2 separate regions of the Homo sapiens genome follow, and region 1 is linked to region 2. The links come from fine-mapping of genetic effects on gene expression. A gene starts in region 2. The other region holds a variant in brackets. All regions are shown on one strand. Distances are between the middles of the regions. Region 1 holds the start of ZNF547 (zinc finger protein 547). Region 2 holds the start of ZNF17 (zinc finger protein 17).

Region 1 (10,322 bases), 50 kb after region 2:
CAACTTTTCACAAGTACAGGCATCAACAGTTGATTGTCTGAGGGAAAGGAAATATAAGAATATAAAGTGACAGAAGCAACACACTTCACTGTGGCCTGGAACTGCTCCCAGCCTCCTATTTTACAAACATGATTCAGGTTCTCACATTATAGCAAGATCACTATTCCTAGCCTCTGGCAGAAGCAGACATGTGACACTTAGCACTGCACAAGTGTTTCTTTGGCTTCTTGAGTAGTGCTATGTATACTGCCAATACATTTTTATAACATCTCTAAATGCATAACGTCCACGTATGTGCTATGACATTTCACTTCCAATGGCAGAATATTTTAGTTTTAAATCTATCTACCAAATCTTGACTATGACATTTGTTTCTGGATTGTTATAAGATCAACCTATCTGGGCCGGGTATGGTGGCTCACACCTGTAATCCCAGCACTTTGGGAGGCTGAGGCAGGAGAATCGCTTGAAGTCAGGAGGCAGAGGTTGCAGTGAGCCAAGCGCCACTGCACTCCAGCCTGGACGACAGAGCAAAACTCCACGTCAAAAAAAAAAAAAAAAAAAACAATTTATCTGAATTGGGCAAGTCGAAAGCTTATTCCCAGCCAGGCGCAGTGGCTCACACCTGTAATCCCAGCACTCCGGGAGGCCGAGGCAGGCAGATAACCTGAGGTCAGGAGTTCAAGACCAGCCTGGCCAAAATGGCGAAACCCTGTCTCTACTAAAAATACAAAAATTAGCCAGGCGTATGCCTGTAATCCCAGCTACTCTGGAGGCGGAAGGAGAACTGCTTGAACCCGGGAGGCAGAGGCTGCAGTGAGCCAAGATCGTGCCACTGCACTCCAGCCTGCATGACAGGAGCAAGACTCCATCTCAAAAACAAAAAAACAAAAACATACACACACACACAAAAAAGCTTATTCCCAATTTTTAAGTAAAAAATATTTCATGGCCAGGCGCAGTGGCTCACACCTGTAATCCCAGCACTTTGGGAGGCCGAGGCGAGCGGATCACGAGGTCAGGAGTTCAAGACCAGCCTGACCAATATGGTGAAATCCCGTCTTTACTAAAAATACAAAAATTAGCCAGGCGTGGTGGTGCATGCCTGTAATCCTAGCTACTTGGGAGGCTGAAGAAGGAGAATTGCTTGAACCCGGGAGGTGGAGGTTGCAGTGAGCCAAGATCGTGCCACTGCACTCCAGCCCCTGCACAACAGGAGCCAGACTCCATCTCAAAAGAAAAAAAAAAAAGAAAGAAAGAAAGAAAAAGAAAGCTTATTCCCAATTTTTAAGTAAAAATATTTCATGGCCGGGAGTGGTGGCTCATGCCTGTAATCCCAGCACTTTGGGAGGCCGAGGCAGGCAGATCACGAGGTCAGGAGTTCAAGACCAGCCTGACCAACATGGCGAAACTCCGTCTCTACTAAAAATACAAAAAAAATTAGGCAGGCATGGTGGTGGGAGCCTGTAATCCCAGCTACTCGGGAGGCTGAGGCAGAATTGCTTGAACCTGGGAGGCGGAGGGTGCAGTGAGACGAGACTGTGCCACTGCACTCCAGCCTGGGCAACAAGAGCAAAACTCCGTCTCAAAAAAAAAAAAAAAAGAAAGAAATTAATTATTATTGATAATGAGTTCTTTATAAATAACATTGTTCACAAGGAAATACTAATTGATCTACTGATATGTGACATGAGACAGAATGTACTATTTTTAAATATAAAAGAAATTTCATTAAGTTTAGATAAGCTGAGAATACACAAAAGATTTCCAGGCTATTTAATCAAGTAATTTACAATGTACACATTCCTGAGTATACACCATTGTGGTGATATAATTTATTTTGGAATTTTCTCCATTCAGCTTAAAAGGTGTTTCTTCCCAAGAAACTGAACTTTTCTGTCAAATGCACTTGATCGAATAGGAGAATTGGGTTCATAAAATGGATTCATTGAAAATTTTATATATAAATCATAAACATCAGTAAAGAAGTTCTTTATTCCATCTTCTTGTCTTATGTCATGAAGCATAATAAACCTCATATGCCCCGCGGTGACAAATGCTGACACAAACCACTCGTTGAACTTGTCCACAGTTTTCAAGTACATGTTGTTCGACAGCCACATGTTCTCATCTACGAGGTCGAGAGCAGCATGAGCTATGAACTGGTTCAGATGACGATGGTCGTCTTTGGATTCTGCCTTCCCAGCTGGCAAAAACTCCATTTCAAAAACTGGATTATCATGGTGACCAACAATTACAAAGTAGAAGCTTCCAGACATGGTCTTCAATATATGGCTCCTGCAGCGGGAGGCCGACAACGGAAACGCAATGTCAGTTTCCGCGGAAGAGACCCGCGCTCCGCACCTTTTTTTGACACGGAATCTCGCTCTGTCGCCCAGGCTGGAGTGCAATGGCGCGATCTTGGCTCACTGCAATCTCCACCTCCTGGGTTCAGGCAATTCTCCTGCCTCAGCCTCCCGAATAGCTGGGATTACAGGCGCGCGTCACCACCCCCGGCTAATTTTTGTATTTTTACTAAAGACGGGGTTTCACCATGTTGGTCAGGCTGGTCTTGAACGCCTGACCTTGTGATCCGCTCGCCTTGGCCTCCCAAAGTGCTGGGATTACCGGCGTGAGCCACCACGCCCGGCCACCCTCTATTCTTTTGAAGAATCTACACCAGTTCTCCTCTGTAGACTCCACACCTTTCTGTCCCCCTACCCATGTGACATTTTCAACTTGAGACGCCTGAGAATCACACTGGCCAAACTCCAACCCATGATCTTCTCCATGAAACCTACTTCTCATGCTGCTGACTTCCCCAACTTCATTCTTTCAGATGTTCGGGCAAAAAAAAAAAAATGACCCTTCACTCCCTATTTTTGCTCACAGACATATCTGATACGGCAGGAAAACCTGTTGGCTCTATCTTCCAGGTCTATCCAGAATCCCATCACATTGTCCCTCTTATACCACGGCTCTGGTGCAGCCTCTGGGATCCACTGCAGTGGCCTCTTCTGGGTCTCTCTGTGTCAATTCCCCATCCTGCTCGTTCTAACTCTGGACCTGCCCCTCCCACTGGTCTTCCCTTGACAACCTTCCATGGTTATACCGGCTGCTCAGGCTGCCATTCCAAGAGAAAATTCACAAAACCCTCTCTTTCCCGCAGAAACAACCCACACTCCGGGCTCCCCGACGCGGCCCACTTGGCAGCACCTCCATGCTCTGAACCTGAGATCCCCGAAGGGAGCTCTGAGGCTGCATCAAACCAGCTGATACGGGGACCCCACACAGGAACGCCCCTCTCTTCGAGACAAGGGGCCTGACCTGCAGGGCCCCTTCTATGGGCTTCAGCACTGGAAGGAGGGGTCGGGCGGAGGTGGGGGGGGGCCTGGGACGGGGCACCCACCTCGGGTTCTTCGGCGGGGACTCCGCAAGTCCAGCCAGGGAAGAGAGGGGCGGGGGCGACAAAGGCAAGACAAGGACACCGCCGTCCCCAGTCCTTGTCAGCTGAGCTTCTGCCACTGTCAGTTGTGCCTGTGTCACTACCGCCTCTGCGTACAAGGAACCAAGCCGCTTCTCGCGCTTTTCCGCTCCGTCACTTCGGTGACGTCATAGAGCGCCAAAGGCCGGAACTAGTGAAAACACCAGAGAAAATCAAATCAACCACGGCAAGAGGACGCCGGAAGTCCCGCCCTCCTACGATGCGCGAGCACGAGGACGGACGCACGCACGCACGCACGCACGCAAAGGTTCCTTCCTGCACATTCATTGGGTCAGTCGCGCTGCCGAGAACCGCAGTGTCTTCTGGGTTATGAAGTTTCGACACCGCTTCTGGACTTGCCTTAGAGCGTTGGTCAGTCCTTATATGGCGGATAGAGGCTCAGTGGCACCGTCAGGGGAGCTGGTAAACAGAGTGCCGGACTCCACGGACAGGACGGGGCTTGGGTTGCTCTTAAAGGCGACATAACCAGATTTTCTTGAAGTAAGGTCTAGGATACTCACAGAAATGTGAGGGACCTATGATATCGGATTGTGAAGCACAGCAAGTTCTCAACGGCTACACCGCCAAAGGGACACACTATACCACAAAGGCACTCTGTCTCTACTCATGCCTCTCAGCCATATGTTGCTTTTCAAATACACATACAGTTAAACTTTGACTTCTATTTATTAAGCTTCAATATGGTTGGTCCAAGAGAACAAAGAAAGACTACATGGCTGGGAATTTGCACAAAAGAAGACAGGAGATACCGACGTAGATTGAAAGGGTGACGCTGTGCCTCTGGATCCAGAAGAAAACATCATTACTGTCTGTAGAGTCAGTGATTGTGTTCCTACCAAGAGTGCAATGCTTTTATTCTAATAATACTTATTACTTCATGTCTGAAATATTTTACATTTATTTTAAAAGTCTCAATCCTGTCTGAAAATGAGAGTGACTGATACATGCCATTTCCTGACAGGACATTTTGTGCCATTCCATAGTTGGAGTATATGTACACAGGGAACGTATTATCCCCAATAAAAACTGTGAACTTTCATGATCTTATCTCCTTCCTGAGAAGTGAGTTATCATTTTACAGGGAGTTGAAATTATCTGTGAAAATACTTGTGAAATGAAAATTACAGAAATCTATTAATAATAACTGTTAGGTTTTGAAGGGAAGGCGAGGGTTAAAGAAAGGCAGAGTTGGCAGCTCTACAGCAATGCAGGTTTTATGTCCAGCACGAGACCTGTGATGGGGAGAACTAGCTTAGTGCCAGAACCCCTCACTGCTTACAGGCTGGGGCAATTATAGGCCTGGATGAGAGGGGTCAGGGGTGGGGGGCAGGGGGCGCGGCGGGAGGGTATGACTTGCTGCCCAGGAGGATGGTGGGTTTTTTTTTGTTTTTGGAGGAGTCTCGCTCTTGTCGCCCAGCCTTGAGTGCAATGGCGTGATCTCGGCCCACTGCAACCTCCGCCTCCCGGAGTTCAAGCGATTCTTGAACTCCGCCTCCCGAGTAGTTGGCTTTACAGGCGCGTGCCACCACGCCCGGCTAATTTTTTTGTATTTTTAGTAGGGACAGGGTTTCACCATGTTGGTCAGGCCAGTCTGGAATTCCTGACCTCAGGTGATCCGCCCGCCTCGGCCTCCCAAATTGCTGGGATTACAGGCGTGAGCCACAGCACCCGGCCAAAGGATGTGCGTAAGATGTTCCTGAGGCAGTTTGGCCTTTTATCCGGCAGGATGTGATAGTGACCTTCCTTGGATCTTTTCCCAGAACGATGTGATAAGAAAGTCAGGCAGTTGGGCAGGATGTTTCTCAAGGCCCTCACTCCGTGGAATGCTTCACTCTGACCAAGGTCTGTGAGATGGCAGGGGGCTTACAGGATGGTGCAGTTTGGACTAACAGTGATTATGTTATTTCAAAACTAGTGGCAGAAATAGTCCTACAGAAATCTCTCTGTGACATGTGAAGGGGGGAAAAAGCAAGGTTACAGTAGAGTTTGAGCAAGAGTCTGAGAAGTCAAAGAATGAAGTTGAGACTGGCTGTGCTGGAACCTGGACACATTATGCTTCTGTCTCCTATATGTATTTCTTATTTCATACTTGAAAACATCGCTTATTAACTGTTTGGAGGGATAGAGATAACAAATGGAAACACTTGTCAAAAAATAAAAATGAAGGCCGGGTGCGGTGGCTCACGCCTGCAATCCCAGCAATTTGGGAGGCCGAGGTGGGCGGATCACGAGGTCAGGAGCTCAAGACCAGCCTGGCCAACATAGTGAAACCCTGTCTCTACTAAAAATACAAAAATTATCTGGGCATGGTGGCGGGTGCCTGTAATCCAAGCTACTTGGGAGGCTGAGGCAGGAGAATCGCTTGAACCCAGGAGGTGGAAGTTGCAGTGAGCAGAGATCGCGCCACTGCACTCCAGCCTGGGTGACAGTGCAAGACTCCGTCTCGAAAAATAAAAATAAAAATGAGTAGGCAATCTGTGTGATGATGTGTATTTACTGCTCTACAAAATGTTCAATGAGCACGTACAAACTGGGTTTCAGGTCAATGGTAGGTATATGGGACACACCGGGAATAGGGCTGCCAGCTGCTGTGTGTATACAGGACTGTTATGTGTTTCCTTAGATTCTGTATTTGTCTTTTTGGT[A/G]TTCATAAATCACAGGTTCAAGCTAACAGCCAAAGTTGTTAACTTCTCTGTCTGCAAGCCACTTACTCAGAGGTGTGTGAAACTCACATAAAAAAACCCCAGCCAGGCTGGGCGCAGTGACTCACACCTGTAATCCCAGCACCTTGGGAGGCCGAGGCAGACAGATCACCTGAGGTCAGGAGTTCGAGACCAGCCTGGCCAACATGGCGAAACCCCATTTCTGCTAAAAATACAAAAATTAGCTGGGCATGGTGGCGGGTGCCTGTAGTCCCAGCTGCTTGGAAGGCTAAGGTGGGAGAATCGCTTGAACCCGGGAGGTGGAGGTTGCAGTGAGCCGAAATCATGCCACTGTACTCCAGCCTGGGCAACAGAGCAAGACTCCATTTCAAAACAAAACAAAACAACCCTGCCTTTAAAAAAGATACTTATTGTGTGTTATTAGGGAATTGCAAATAAAAGCAACAATGGCATACCACTACACACCTATTTGAATGGCATTTTAAAATCCAAAATACTGAAAATGCCAAATGCTGATTAGGATGAGATGCAAGAGGAATGTTCAATCATTGTTAGTTGGATGCAAAAATGGTACAGCCACAGCCCGTTGCAGTGGCTCACCCCCGTTATCCCAGCACTTTGGGAGGCCGAGGAGGGTGATCACTTGAGGTCAGGAGTTTGAGACCAGCCTGGCCAACATGGTAAAAACCCATGTCTACTAAAATAGGTGGAGGTTGCAGTGAACCAAGATCATACCACTGCACTCCAGCCTGGGTGACAGAGTGGAGACTCTGTCTCAAAAAATATATATAAATAAAATAAATGGTGCAGCCGCTTTGGAAGACAGCTTGGCAGTTTCTTACAAGACTAAACATGCTATATGACAGAGAAAATTGCACTCCTTGGCACATATCCAAATGAGTTGAAAACATCTCCACAGAAAAACTATACAAATATGTAGTAGGTTTATTCATAACTGCCAAAACTTGAAAGCAACCGTCCTTCAATAAGTAAATGGATAAAGAAACTGAGGTGTATTTATAGAATGGAATATCATTCAGCCATAATTTGCACACAAATCTTCAGAGGTTTATTTGTAATAGCCAAAAACTGAAAGTTACCCAAACATCCATAACAATTAAGTTGACAAAGAAGAAAAATTGTGGTATACAATGAAATACTGAAATACTACGCAGCAATACAAATGAGCAAACAATTGATTCATGCAACAAGATAATGGATTAACCTTAAAATAGTTATGTTTACTGAAAAAGCCAGAGCCCCACCCCCTAAAAAGTACACACCATATGGTTTCATTTATAAAATTATAGAAAATGCTTGCTGTTGCTTGTGAATTGTGGAAAACAAGATAAGGAAAAATTGAGGATTATAAAGGGACAATCTTTTGTTGTGTTGGATATCTTGACTGTGGTGGTTTCATAGGTGTACACACATGCTGAAACAGCACATTTTACACTTTACATATTTGCAGTTTATTGCATGTTAATCATACCTCCATAAAGCTATTAAATAAATGTTCCTCATTAAAATCTATATATACTGTTCCACTAGGAAAGTTAGATCTGTCAACTATTTTGGCTTTACCATATTCCTCTCCCTACAATTTAGGAGAGTGAGCCCTGCCTCAATGTTGGTAAAAATTGGTAAGCAATGATGTCCACATCCACCTCAGTCACTCGGAATGCTGGCTGGGTCAGAGAAGACCCATCCCTGGATCTCTCTTCTGTCACTGCTGAGGTTCCTGTCTGTGCAGGTCAACTGCCCAGGGAGACACAGGAATCCACAAACATTTAGATTATTTCCTCTGACAGTGGCCTTGGCCACAGGAGATACAGATGTCTGAAGGTCCTGAGAATTTCTATGCACTCCCATCCCACACCATCATAACTGCACCGAGACTTGTGGATGCCCCTCTAGAATGTTCGAATCTCCTTTTGTTTGCCACAGTCATCCCCACTCCATTATCTCAGTGCTTCTGTAGCAATCATGATTTTCACATTGCCCTACAGAGGTCTTACAGTCAATGTTACTTGCCTATGGGGTTCTGGATATCAGGGACTTGATCCTGTACAGGTACAGAAGACAGCAATCCCTCAACAGTGCTGGGGAGTACGTGACAGTTAAGGGACCCAACTTATGTTGCTTCCACAAGCACAGGAGATTTTCGCACCAACTATGCCCTCCTCACTGGGCTCACAGGAAATCCTGGCAGCCAGGCCACAAAGTTAGGCACAAAAATTTTTTCAGTCTTTCCTAGCAAGCCTAGGGCAATAGTGTAAATTAGGTCAAACTAGACTGAGAACAGTTTTCTGCCATCCTTTGGTCCCCTCTGAGGCACATAAAGGTGGTGCCCACAAAAGGTGCTACTCCCTTCATGACAGAACCCAATTCTTTTCTCAATCCACTCTACACAGTAACAAAATCCCCAAGAGTAAAGACTGCCACAATAGGCCCTTATCACTGTATAAATCAGAGCAGCATGGGACAAGCAGTTCCAAATTTGGGCGATTTGGCAGTAAGACAAGTAAGTCACAGCTATCACGTTTACAGTTAACATTGTCCATGAAGATGGAAAATCGTGTCAGGAAATCCCAGCAGACCCTAGCTCAGGTCCTTTTGGTGAGAGCTAGATCATGTTTGCTCAGAACCTAATCATGAGGGAAAAGATGAGGACCCTCAATGGTAGGGGGTGAAGTGGGGGGGGGGGGAAGTCCTTGAAAATATTCATGATTACCTGTAGGGAACAGGAAAGAAAGCACAGAAGTCTGCCTTCCCTGAGCAAAATGGAGTGATTGACACACACAGCTGGTAGCAATAAGATGGCTTCCGCCACAGGCACTGGCAGTGATATAATTCCATCAAGAGCTCTAGACAGTTACAAAGTGCAACACACCTCATGAAAGCCTCCCACATATGTGGTGCTTATCAGGAATCTCCCCAGGGTGGAATGAATATACGGTGCTCATCTGCTAGCTGATGGTTCCCTCACAAAGGGTACTCACAGAGCATTGCTCTGGTGTGAGTCCTATGAGGATGAACAAGATGACATATTTTCTGCATTCATAAGGCCTTTCTCTTGTGTGAATTTTCTGGTGTTAAACAAGTTTAAGAGATGCAGCTAAAGGGCCACCAAAACTGTTGCACTCGTGAGCTCTTTCTCCAGTGTGAGCTTTCTGGTGACGAACAAGATGGGAGCTTCTGCTATAGGCTTTCCCACATTCGCTGCATACGTAAGGCTTTTCTCCAGTGTGAACCCTCTGGTGCAGAATGAGGCCAGAGTTGCGGCTAAAGAATTTCCCACATTCACTGCACTCATAAGGTCTTGCTCCAGTGTGAACTTTCTTGTGTTGAACAAGGTGGGAGCTACTAATGTAAGCCTTCCCACATTCACTGCACACATAAGGCCTTGCTCCTGTGTGAACTCTCTGGTGCAAAATGAGGCTGGAGTTGTGGCTAAAGCATTTCCCACATTCATTGCACTCATAAGGCTTTGCTCCAGTGTGAATTCTCTGGTGTACAATAAGGTTGGAGCTATGGCTGAAGAATTTACCACATTCACCACACTCATAAGGCCTTTCTCCAGTGTGGATTTTTTGGTGTTGCACAAGTGTGTCTTTACGGCTGAAGGCCTTCCCACATTCACTGCACTCATAAGGCCTTGCTCCAGTGTGAATTATCTGGTGCTGAACAAGTGTGTCTTTGCAGCCAAAGGCCTTCCCACATTTGCTGCACACGTAGGATCTTGCTCCTGTGTGGACTCTCCGATGTTTAATGAGGCTAGAGTTATGGCTAAAGAATTTTCCACATTCTATGCATTCATAGGGCCTTGCCCCGGTATGAATTCTCCAGTGCTCAATAAGGTGGGAGCTTTGGCTAAAGAATTTTCCACATTCACTGCACTCATAAGGCCTTTCTCCAGTATGAAATCTCTGGTGCTGAACAAGTGTGTCTTTACGGCTAAAGGCTTTCCCACATTTGTTGCACTTATAAGGCCTTTCTCCTGTGTGAATTCTCTGGTGCTGAACAAGGTGGGAGCTTCTGCTGTAGGCTTTTCCACATTCACTGCAGTCATAAGATCTTTCTCCAGTGTGAACTCTCTGATGCTGAACAAGTGTGTCCTTGCGGCTGAAGGCCTTCCCACATTCACTGCATGT
Region 2 (10,322 bases):
TTGGGAGGCTGAGGCAGGTAGATCACAAGGTTAGGAGTTCAAGACCTGCCTGGCCAAGATAGTAAAACCCCATCTCTACTAAAAATACAAAAATTAGCCGGGCATGGTGGCAGGCACCTGTAATCCCAGCTACTCGGGAGGCTGAGGCAGAGTACTGCTTGAACCTGGGAGGCAGAGGTTGCAGTGAGCCGAGATCGCGCCACTGCACTCCATCCTGGGCAACAGAGCTAGACTCCATCTCAAAAAACAAAACAAAACAAAAAAAACACCTGGCACATGGGGGCCTACCTTTCTTTTGTCACTCAATTTCCCTAGAGTCACCCAGATCTTGCCTCTCAGATAACCAAACTTGGACTCACCCTCCTCCCTTAAGTGCCCAGTGCCAGAGGTGGAACCATCTATTCATGCTCCTCCACTCAGGCTTTGGATGGCACCTCCCTCATGTATCCAACACCTCCACTCTTGGCAACACTAACAACCACCACAGCCCAACTGGGAGTATTTCCATGGCGTGTTACCATGCCACTCTGCACATGAAATCCTGCAGTGCATGACAAATGCAACCAGAATCGTATTTGCCCCTAGAATGACCAGAATGCAATGTTTAGGAAACATTGCTTTGAACGTCTCCCAACCCAATCCTGTTTCTTTCTTTGACCTCAGCTTTCCAAACCCACATATTCTTGCACACCTCCTTTGAGTTCCAGATCTTGGCTGTCTCCCCCTTCTACATGTATATGTTGTCCCATAAGCAGTCACGACTTTCTCTATCCCCCAACTCTAATCCAAAGCCCAGATACACTGACCTCCCCAACACCATCCCCACCCCAGGACTAGCAATGCTTCTAGATGATCCCATCTTCTGCCAAAATAGTCTCAGAGTTCGCGTGAAACTACCCAGGTACAACCAATATTTGCCACAAAACCCTGTTGAGTCCATAATAGGGTACTAAGCCCCTCCCAGACCTCACTATCATCTCACCTCTTTTGTGGAGATGCCTCACCATCCAACTTTTATGTGCACTCTCCCCCTCAAAAGCCTTTATTTTCCAAAGGCCATCTCCAACATAAACACACAAATACACACACACATATCCTCAGTCCATCCACTCCCTCATCTGTCTTTGTGATGCCCAGCAACCCCATCCAGGTGCCCAACAGAAAGATCCAGTCCTCAGCCCCTTCCTTCCCCTTCCTTCTCCCTAACAGCATTGCCTCCAGAATCTAAAGATGTCTATTCCTAAATCTGACCCACAGATTTACCATGGTGTACACGCTGGCTATCATATAGTAGATGTCTCCATCCTGAACACCTCCATTGAACTCCATTCCTGTGTGTTCAACTGCCAGTCTGGCACCTCTACTCGAGTCTCTGGAACATTTTTGACTTAGCCCAAACCTCGTTCTTCATATGCTCTATTAAACTCCCCCTACTACAAAATTTACCACATCTTAGTTGCTGGAACATCCAACCTTCTCAACAAGGCCAAAACAATGGGGCCATTCCTGACTCCCTCTTGCATCCTACCTCCCGAGCTTCCTCGCTCTGTACATCAAAAAATGTGAGCAGCTCTAGATCAAAACCTACAGAAGCCACCCACCCCTCCCACCTCCACAGCCGCCACTCGTGTCCAGCCACCACCAACCTCCACTGGACTGTGGCAGGAATTATCACCCAGGTATCCTTGGTTCTTCCCTAACTCTCACTCTGTCCTCCATTCTGCAGGCAGAGGAAGCCTCTTAGAATCTAGGTCAAATCTGGCTGGGTGCAGTGGCTCAGGCCTGTAATTCCAGCACTTTGGGAGGCTGAGGCGGGCAGATCATGAGGTCAGGAGATCGAGACCATCCTAACACGGTGAAACCCTGGCTCTACTAAAAAATACAAAAAAAAGTTAGCCGGGCATGATGGCAGGTGCCTGTAATCCCAGCTACTTGGGAGGCTGAGGCAGGAGAATGGCGTGAACCCAGGAAGCGAAGCTTGCAGTGAGCCGAGTTCACGCCACTGCACTCTGGCCTGGGCGACAGAGGGAGACTCCGTCTCAAAAAAAAAAAAAAAGAATCTAGGTCAAATCACCTCTTTTTTCTTTCTCAAACCTTCCCTAGCTACTACCCCCCTCAGATTAAAGACCTAGAACCACTGGGCACGGTGGCTCATACCTGTAATCCCAGCACTTTGGGAGGCTGAGGCAGGCAGATCACTTGAGGCCAGGAGTTCGAGACCAGCCTGGCCAACATGGTGAAATCCTGTCTCTACTAAAAATACAAAAATTAGCTGGGTGTGTTGGTTCATGCCTGTAATCCCAGCTACTTGGAAGGCTGAGGCAGGAGAATTGCTTGAACCTGGGAGACAGAGGTCGCAATGATCCGAGATCACATCAATGCACTCCCGCCTGGGCGACAGAGTTAGCCTCTGTCTGGAAAAAAAAAAAAAAACAAGGCCAGGTGTGGTGGCTCAAGCCTGTAATCCCAGCACCTTGGGAGGGCCGAGGCAGGCAGATCACGAGGTCAAGAGATTGAGAACATCCTGGCCAACATGGTGAAACCCCATCTCTACTAAAAAATACAAAAATTAGCCGGGCATGGTGGCGGGTGCCTATAATCCCAGCTACTCGGGAGGCCGGGGCAGGAGAATCGCTTGAACCAGGAAGGCGGAGGTTGTAGTGAGCTGAGATCGCGCCACTGCACTCCAGCCTGGAGACAGAGCAAGATTCTGTCTCAAAAACAAAACAAAACAAAAACAAAAACCTAGACAACCTCAGGCTGCCATTCCATGCCTGATCCCTGCATGCCCCGACCTCCTGCCCTGCTGCTGTGCTCCTTATCCTTGCCAGCTAGAACATTAAGCTACAGTTCTCTAAGCATCCCATCTAAGTCTCACCACCAAGCATTTGAACATTCTAGATCCTGTGTTTGAGATGCCTTGCCAAATCTCAAACCATCAGTTGTGAGAACTAGAACCACTCTATATAACCAGGCACTGAGTTTGGAACCCAGGTCTGGTGGAACTACAGGCTCTCCTTGGACCCAAGGGAGAGAGAAGAAAAGGTGAACAGTCTCAGGATAACACCATTCCCTATATCAGCATGCTGAAACCATCTGGGATGGGTGAAAGCTGGAAACACTCTCCACTCACCTGTCCAGCATCCATAAGCATTGCTGCCACTGCTATGAACCCTGTGGGAAGAGGCAGGCCATGAGGATTAAGACAGCATTGCAGCATCCTACAGGCTGACTGTACAACCACCTCTGGCCCTGCAACTAGAGCAAAGTTATCTGAGGGTACACAGTAAGTCCTCAGGGTTCAGTGTCTTGATGAGGACTGAACTTCCTTAAGTCTCGGTGCCCTTATGTGTAAAATAGAGATTAAAAGGATTGCCAACTAATAGGGCTTATATGGGCATCAAATATAAGTAGTACACACTATGTATCAGCAATTTCTTTCTACTGGATTAAATATTTTTTACATGTTTTCGGTACAAATGACATGGAAGGGTTTTGAAATTTTGGGTGTGTATTTTTCCCACTTCTTACGGTGTTAAGGAAATGTGATACATAAAACTTTCCATTGCAAGCAAATAGAAAAATTAACATTCAGCCGGGCATGGTGGCTCAAGCCTCTAATCCCAGCACTTTGGGAGGCCGAGGTGGGCGGATCACGAGGTGCAGAGATCAAGACCATCCTGGCCAACCATGGTGAAACCCTGTCTCTATCAAAAATACAAAAATTAGATGGGCATGGTGGCGCATGTCTGTAATCCCAGCTACTCGGGAGGCTGAGGTAGGAGAATCGCTTGAACCCGGGAGGCAGAGGTTGCAGTGAGCCGAGACCACGCCACTGCACTCCAGCCTGGCGACAGAGCGAGACTCCGTCTCAAAAAAAAAAAGAAAAAAGAAAAATCAACATTCAACAATTATTAAGTGAATAAATTTAACTATTGGTTACATTCATTTCTAACTGCCGACCTATGTGTACATATTTAGAAGGATACTGGTTCATTAGTGGTTAAATAAATGTTTTATACATTCGGCCGGGCGCGGTGGCTCATGCCTGTAATCCCAGCACTTTGGGAGGCTGAGGCGTGCAGATCATGAGGTCAGGAGATAGAGACCATACTAGCTAACACGGTGAAACCCCGTCTCTACTAAAAATGCAAAAAATTAGCCTGGCGTGGTGGCGGGCACTTGTAGTCCCAGCTACTCGGGAGGCTGAGGCAGGAGAATTGCTTGAACTCGGGAGGCGGAGCTTGCAGTGAGCCGAGATCGCGCCACTGCACTCCAACCTGGGCGATGGAGCGAGACTCTGTCTCAAAAAAAAAAAAAATGTTTTACACATTCATAAATAAATAAGTTGCAGGGAGGGGATAAGCAAGCAGGTCAGTTACTGGTCCCATCAGCAACCAGGCCTGCCTGCTACAAATTCAGTTGCTGGAAGCTTGCTGGAGGCCCTTGACTAGATGTGAGAAAGCCCTACCCCCGTCTGGACCCAATGTCCCCACTAGTCTGGATGACCTTCCTATTGTTCCACAGAGTGGGCCTGGGGGGCTGCTGGGTCTGCAGGTGCAGAAATCTAAACCACCTCACACCTCAGTCTCCAGCCTAGGCCAGTTCCTTAACCCATTCAGAACTCCGTTTTTGCAGATATGAGCCAGAATCCCTCCTATGACAGGTCTGCGCCTTTCTAAAGGTAGCGTCAGGCTTATGGACCCACCCATGATCTGCCCTCCAAAACTCAGCCCTCCAAAATGCAACTCATAATCCTCTCTGAAACCTGCTCCCTAAGCTGACTTCTCCAACTCCATTCTTTCAGATTTTCAGGCCAAAACAAAATCCATGGAATAGACCCTTCACTACCCTCACTGCTACATTTGATGCAGCAGGAAATCCTGTCGACTCTATCTCTGAGATCCATCCAGAATCTCATCACACTTCCCCTCTACTGCAACCCCTCTGGCCCATCCCTACCATAACTCAAGGGGTCTCCTCAGCGGTCCCCTTGTCCTGGTTTAACATCCTGTTTTTCCCAACTTTAAACGTCTACCTCTGGGCATAACCCTTCCTGCACAGCCTTCTACGGCTTTCAGCAGCTCCGCTGCCCTCCCAGGCGAGACTCCGCCTCACCCTCAGCTCCGTGGAGACAAAGACGCTCGGGCTCCCCAGTGCCGCCCGCTCTGCAGCACCTCTAAGCCTCGCACGTGCAGGTCCCTGACAGGAGCTCCCCCGCCTCACAGCACCGCGGACACCGGTACCCCACACAAGAACGCTCCTCTCTTTGGGACACAGGGGCCTGACCTGCAGGGCCCCTCCTCGGGGCTTCGGCACTCGGAGGAGGGATCGGGCGGGGCGCCCTGGGACGCGGCACCCACCTCAGTCAGGTTCATCGGCGCAGCCTCCGCCAGCACAGCCAGGGAAGAGCGGGGCGGGAGCGGCAGTGACCTGGACGCTGACAGAGGCACCAACGCCTGCAACCGATTCAACCGAGCCTCACTCTAGCCTCTGTACAACGGGGAAACCTTTTCTCGCGTTTTTCCGCTTTTTCACCTCAGTCTCGACTCAGCCTGAAGGTGAACAGATCCCAACGCAGCCATATTGACAACCCCAGGAGGCGTTGCAGGAAGTCCCGCCCACACGCATTGCGAACCCCCGTAGACGCCGCTCTGCTAGGCCTTCATTGGCTACACTCGCTGCTTGTGTCCGCCGCTGTGTCTTTTGGGTAATGTAGTTCCCAGGCCACTGCCTGCCCCGCTTCTGAACTTAAGTTAACTCGCGTTCAGGATGAAAGCCAGGAGGATCCTCCTGAGGCTTTGAGAAATGCAGTTGCGGGGCTCCAAGGACGTGGAGGGGCTTCATTGGCTTTTAAACGGCAAGCATCCAGATTTTCCCGGAAGGCAGTCTAGAACAAGTCAGAGAAATGTTTCAGAGACCTGTCCTTTCAGATTCTGTAAAGCACAGCAAGTTCCCAAAAGACGAACATCCGAAGGAACATGGCCAACCATAAAGAACTGGTCTTCCACGCATAGCGGTCAGCTCTTTTGTGCTTGCCAAATACACACAGAACGAAGCTCTGGAGACTGTTTTATGATCTTCAATGTGCTCTGCTGGGCACATTGAAAAGACCCAGACATGGCATGATGGGGAGTTTGAGGAGTAATATCTTTCCTTTCTGAATAATCAGTTATTGTCTTTCAGCCTACCCAGCAACACTTTATTCACATGATACTTATTACTTTATATCTGAGATATTTTCCACTTATTTTAAGAGACTGAAACCTAACTGAAAAGGAAAAGCGACTTATCTACCATTATCTGCCAGAATAGTGTGGCCTTCCACCAGTCAAAGCCCTTGTGCAAAGAAAGCATCTTACTCCTGAGATAAAGGTTTGGGAATGCATGATCTCATCTCATTAGTGGAAAGTGATTTATCATTTCGCCTGAAATTGTATCAACAGTGTCTGCACAGGGAGTTGAAATTGTCTCTGAATAACTCTTGTGAAATGGCTATTACTGAAACTATTAATGACGATTATGTAGATATCCAAAGAAAGTGGCAAAAATAGTTATAGAGAAACATATTTGTGATAGGAGGAAAAAAGCTAAGGTTGTCCTGGAACCTTGGACACACTCAAGTTTGGTGTCCAAAATCTGATTCTTTTTCAAACTTGAAAACATTGTGCATTAACAGCTTGAAGGGAGAGGTAAAGACTATATATTAAAAGAGTTACCAGAAAAGTAAAGCTGAATAGGGAAACTGTGCTGTCGTATTTATTACTCTAACATATTTGATGAACACTCATTCGATGCCAGGTACAATACTAAGTGCATGGGACACATTAGGAGTAGGGTTGCTAGCTGTCTGTGGTCCTCTAAGACACGTAAGACGTATTTAATGAATTAGTCCTCAGTCCTGTATTGACCTTGTCAGGTCACTTTAAATGTCCTGTATTCCGCTTTTTACAATAAATTACAAAACCTCAGAAGTTAGAGCTATTTTTCTACCACTATAATTGTAAATTAAATCACTTAGCAGCTATGTTAGCTGAAAATCATACCCCCACAAATAAAGATATGGACATAGTCTTGTGATCTCTCCTGCAGAATTGGTGAGGGAAAAATAAAATGGAGCACTGAGATATTCAGTAAAGGAGAAGACTGTTTTTTGGCCAAAGTCTTGAAATTTGGTTTATCAAATTACAAAAAGAAGGAAGGAAGGAGAGAGAAAGAAGGAAACGAAAGGAAAAGAAAAAACCACCCAACTGAAGGTCTGGAAGAGTTAAAGCTGTTCAGTAGTGCCAGCTACATGGAAGTTAAGACGGGAGGATTACTTGAGTTCATAAGTTCAAAACCAGTTTGGGCAATATAGTGAGATCCCCGTCTCTGAAAAAACTGAAAATTAAAAACATGTTAATCATTTACCAACAATACATCCCTACCATCCTACAATTCTATTTCTAGATATTTACCAACAGAAACTAAACAAACTTTTTTTTTCTTTTTTTGAGATAGAGTCTCTCTCTGTCGCCCAGGCTGGAGTGCAATGGCACGATCTCGGCTCACGGCAACCTCTGCCTCCCAGGTTCAGGCGATTCTCCTGCCTCAGCCTCCTGAGTAGCTGGGATTACAGGCATGGCCACCACGCCTGGCTGATTTTTGTACTTTTAGTAGAGACGGGGTTTCACCATGTTGGCCAGGCTGGTCTTGAACTCCTGGCCTCAGGTGATCCACCCGCCTCAGCCTCCCAAAGTGCTGGGATTACAGGCATGAGCCACCTCGCCTGGCCCAAACATCCATCTAACACTTGGTGACAGGCCACATATCTTTGTGTATGTGTATGTATATATATATATATATATGGAGAGAGGGAGAGAGAGAGAGTCTCGCTCTGTTGCCCAGGCTGGAGTGCAGTCACACGATCTCAGCTCACTGCAACCTCTGCCTCCTGGGTTCAAGCAATTCTCCTGCCTCAGCTCCCGAGTAGCTGGGACTACAGGTGTGCACCACCACACCTGGCTAATTTTTGTATTTTTAGTAGAGACAGGGTTTCACCATGTTGGCCAGGCTGGTCTTGAACTCCTGACCTCATGATCCACCCGGCTTGGCCTCCCAAAGTGCTGGGATTACAGGCATGAGCCACCATGCCCAGCCCTTTCAACATATTTTATTAGGTGTTTCGCTACCTTTTGAAATTCCACTTTCATGTAATGAGCGGCTGTATGGTGACAATGGCCCAGGAGGCTCTGGACAGTGAGTGGACATTCTCTCCTTATGTCCCCACAAGGACCTCGTCTTGTTCAATGTTCCGACGTGTTTCCACTCATTCCTGTTCCTCACACTTCATCACCCCACCACTTGTAGACAACAATTCTAAAGGTCTGTTGTGTGTTTTTGTATTTACATGTGTTTTAGAAAGAGGAGCACTGTTACTTTTTGTGTAGTTTAATTGTACTGTACTATAGACTTCTTTCTCCCTTTGTTGGTACTCAAAATGTGTGTTTAATATGTATATATACTCCTGTGTCAAAGTCTACTTAAATGCTAGTAACTGCCCTGTTGTACTTTAGTGTGGACATTCAGTCTTCTACTTCACTCATAGATGTCTTTGGTCCTCCTCTTACACTTAATGCTACAACATATTGTCTCCATGTCCCTGCTGCCTTGAACAGTATTGTGAGAAAACTTCTCTCACATAAGAATTTATGGACTTGACTGAGAGATATACCAGAAACAGGCTTTCTGTGTCACATGATATTCTAGAAAATCATTTTTTTTACAGTACCTGTGCAGATTGCTTTATGAAACTGCTACAGTCTTTGACTCTTCCATGAAATATACATGATTGCAGCTACATCACCCCATATTTCTTTCCATAGTATAGTAATTTATAGAACTTAAAGTAACATGCAATAATATCTAATTTGCATTTCTCTGACACCGAGTTTGAATATCCATTCATATTCTTGATAACCATCTGATTTTTCTCTCTTGTTTATTGTATGCTCGTGCTTTAGTTCATTTCTAAGATCTCTGACTTTATTCCTTTAAGAAGAATCTGAAACTTTGGCTGGGCACAGTGGCTCATGCCTGTAATCCCAGTACTTTGAAAGGTGGAGGTGGAAGGATCATTTGAGTCTAGGAGTTCGAGACCAGCCTGGGCAGTATAGTGAGATCCCCGTCTCTACCAAAAAAGTTAAAAATTAGCCAAGCATGGTAGTGCGCACTTGTAGTCCCAGCTACTGGGGAGGCTGAATGGGAGGATTGCTTGAACCTGAGAGGTGGAGGCTACTGTGAGTGAAGATCACGCCACTACACTCCATCCTAGGTGAAAGAGACCCTGTCTCAATAAAAAAGCAAAAAAATCTAAAACTCGCATGCCTAAAACCGTAAAACTGGGCACATTTAGATATTTTAAATGTCTTCTCTGAGTCCCTGAACTCACTCAGTTTTGACTCATAATCTTTATGAAATAGAAAGCTTGAAATTTAGATGTAATTATATTAATTTGTTTTTTCATGTAACATTTTGTGCACTCTGGGATCAAAGAAAGACTTATCAGAGGGTAAATTCTGAGATCATTTTGTAGGTCTCACTCCAAAATTGTTTCCTTTCCATTTTCTATTTCTTACTCCCTGTTGACCTTTGTTAATTTTAATTTTTTCTGACATGAGTAGCTTAGTTGGAGGATAATATGAGATGGTGCTTATGAATGCTCCTAACTCCGGGCATGTCACATCATAGGTATTAAATATAAATAAAGTTTTTCCCTCTGTTCTTTCTGTATTATTGTATCTTCATTTCTTTTTCTTCTCTCTCCTTTTCTTTAAACTCCTAGTTTTGCCTGTTTTTTTCCCCATACTCTACCTTTAATCAGTAGGAGACAAAAATTCTAAACATCCCATTCTCAATTGCAAAATAAACTTTTAAAATCCCCCAGAGATTGCACAACCTAGTCCACCAAGTGAAACACCTGAGCACTCCTAGGGCGCTGAGGTTAGGCCTAAATACCCTACTGCACCCACTTCAGCCATCTCCTGCCTACAAGCGCCATCTGCTGGTCTAGTGGCTGGCCCACAGAGCCCGCTGCAACCACTGCTAATGAGCACAGCAAGTGCGACCCAGAAGAGTTTCGCACCACTGCCACCACCATCACGGATGCCACACCAGCAGCCCAGGGGCTCAAGAGTGCACTCACATGCTTGGTACACTGCTATCACAACCAGCATCTAAGAAAGCCAACCAGAGGCCCAAGAATCGGCCTGCCTAGAACTGCCAACACAGGTACCAACATTCAGCACCGCAAAGTACAAGGATAAACATACATAGCTCACCAC

Evidence for each region. PIP is the estimated chance that this variant, and not a neighbour inherited with it, causes the effect. A credible set is the group of variants that fine-mapping cannot tell apart.
Region 1: its variant is the best candidate, but not a certain one, in a credible set for the expression of ZNF17 in whole blood (INTERVAL, PIP 0.80).

The regions. Positions count from the first base shown.
Region 1 is chr19:57,356,791-57,367,112 of GRCh38, reverse strand. It overlaps ZNF304 (zinc finger protein 304), which reads right to left. Exons shown (of 3, transcript NM_020657.4): 3 at 7,215-10,322. The coding sequence ends at 9,264. ZNF547 (zinc finger protein 547) reads right to left here and starts at 3,562. Exons shown (of 4, transcript NM_173631.4): 1 at 3,410-3,562. It overlaps TRAPPC2B (trafficking protein particle complex subunit 2B), which reads right to left and starts at 3,562. Exons shown (of 2, transcript NM_001355204.2): 1 at 3,410-3,562; 2 at 1,708-2,298. The coding sequence starts at 2,279. The coding sequence ends at 1,857. RefSeq lists enhancers at 3,510-3,889, 3,930-4,009. The variant A/G (reference allele first, on the strand shown) is at 6,151.
Region 2 is chr19:57,406,448-57,416,769 of GRCh38, reverse strand. ZNF17 (zinc finger protein 17) reads right to left here and starts at 5,609. Exons shown (of 4, transcript NM_001330617.2): 1 at 5,364-5,609; 2 at 3,134-3,174. The coding sequence starts at 3,154. RefSeq lists a silencer at 4,910-5,112 and enhancers at 5,356-5,415, 5,496-5,605, 10,096-10,322.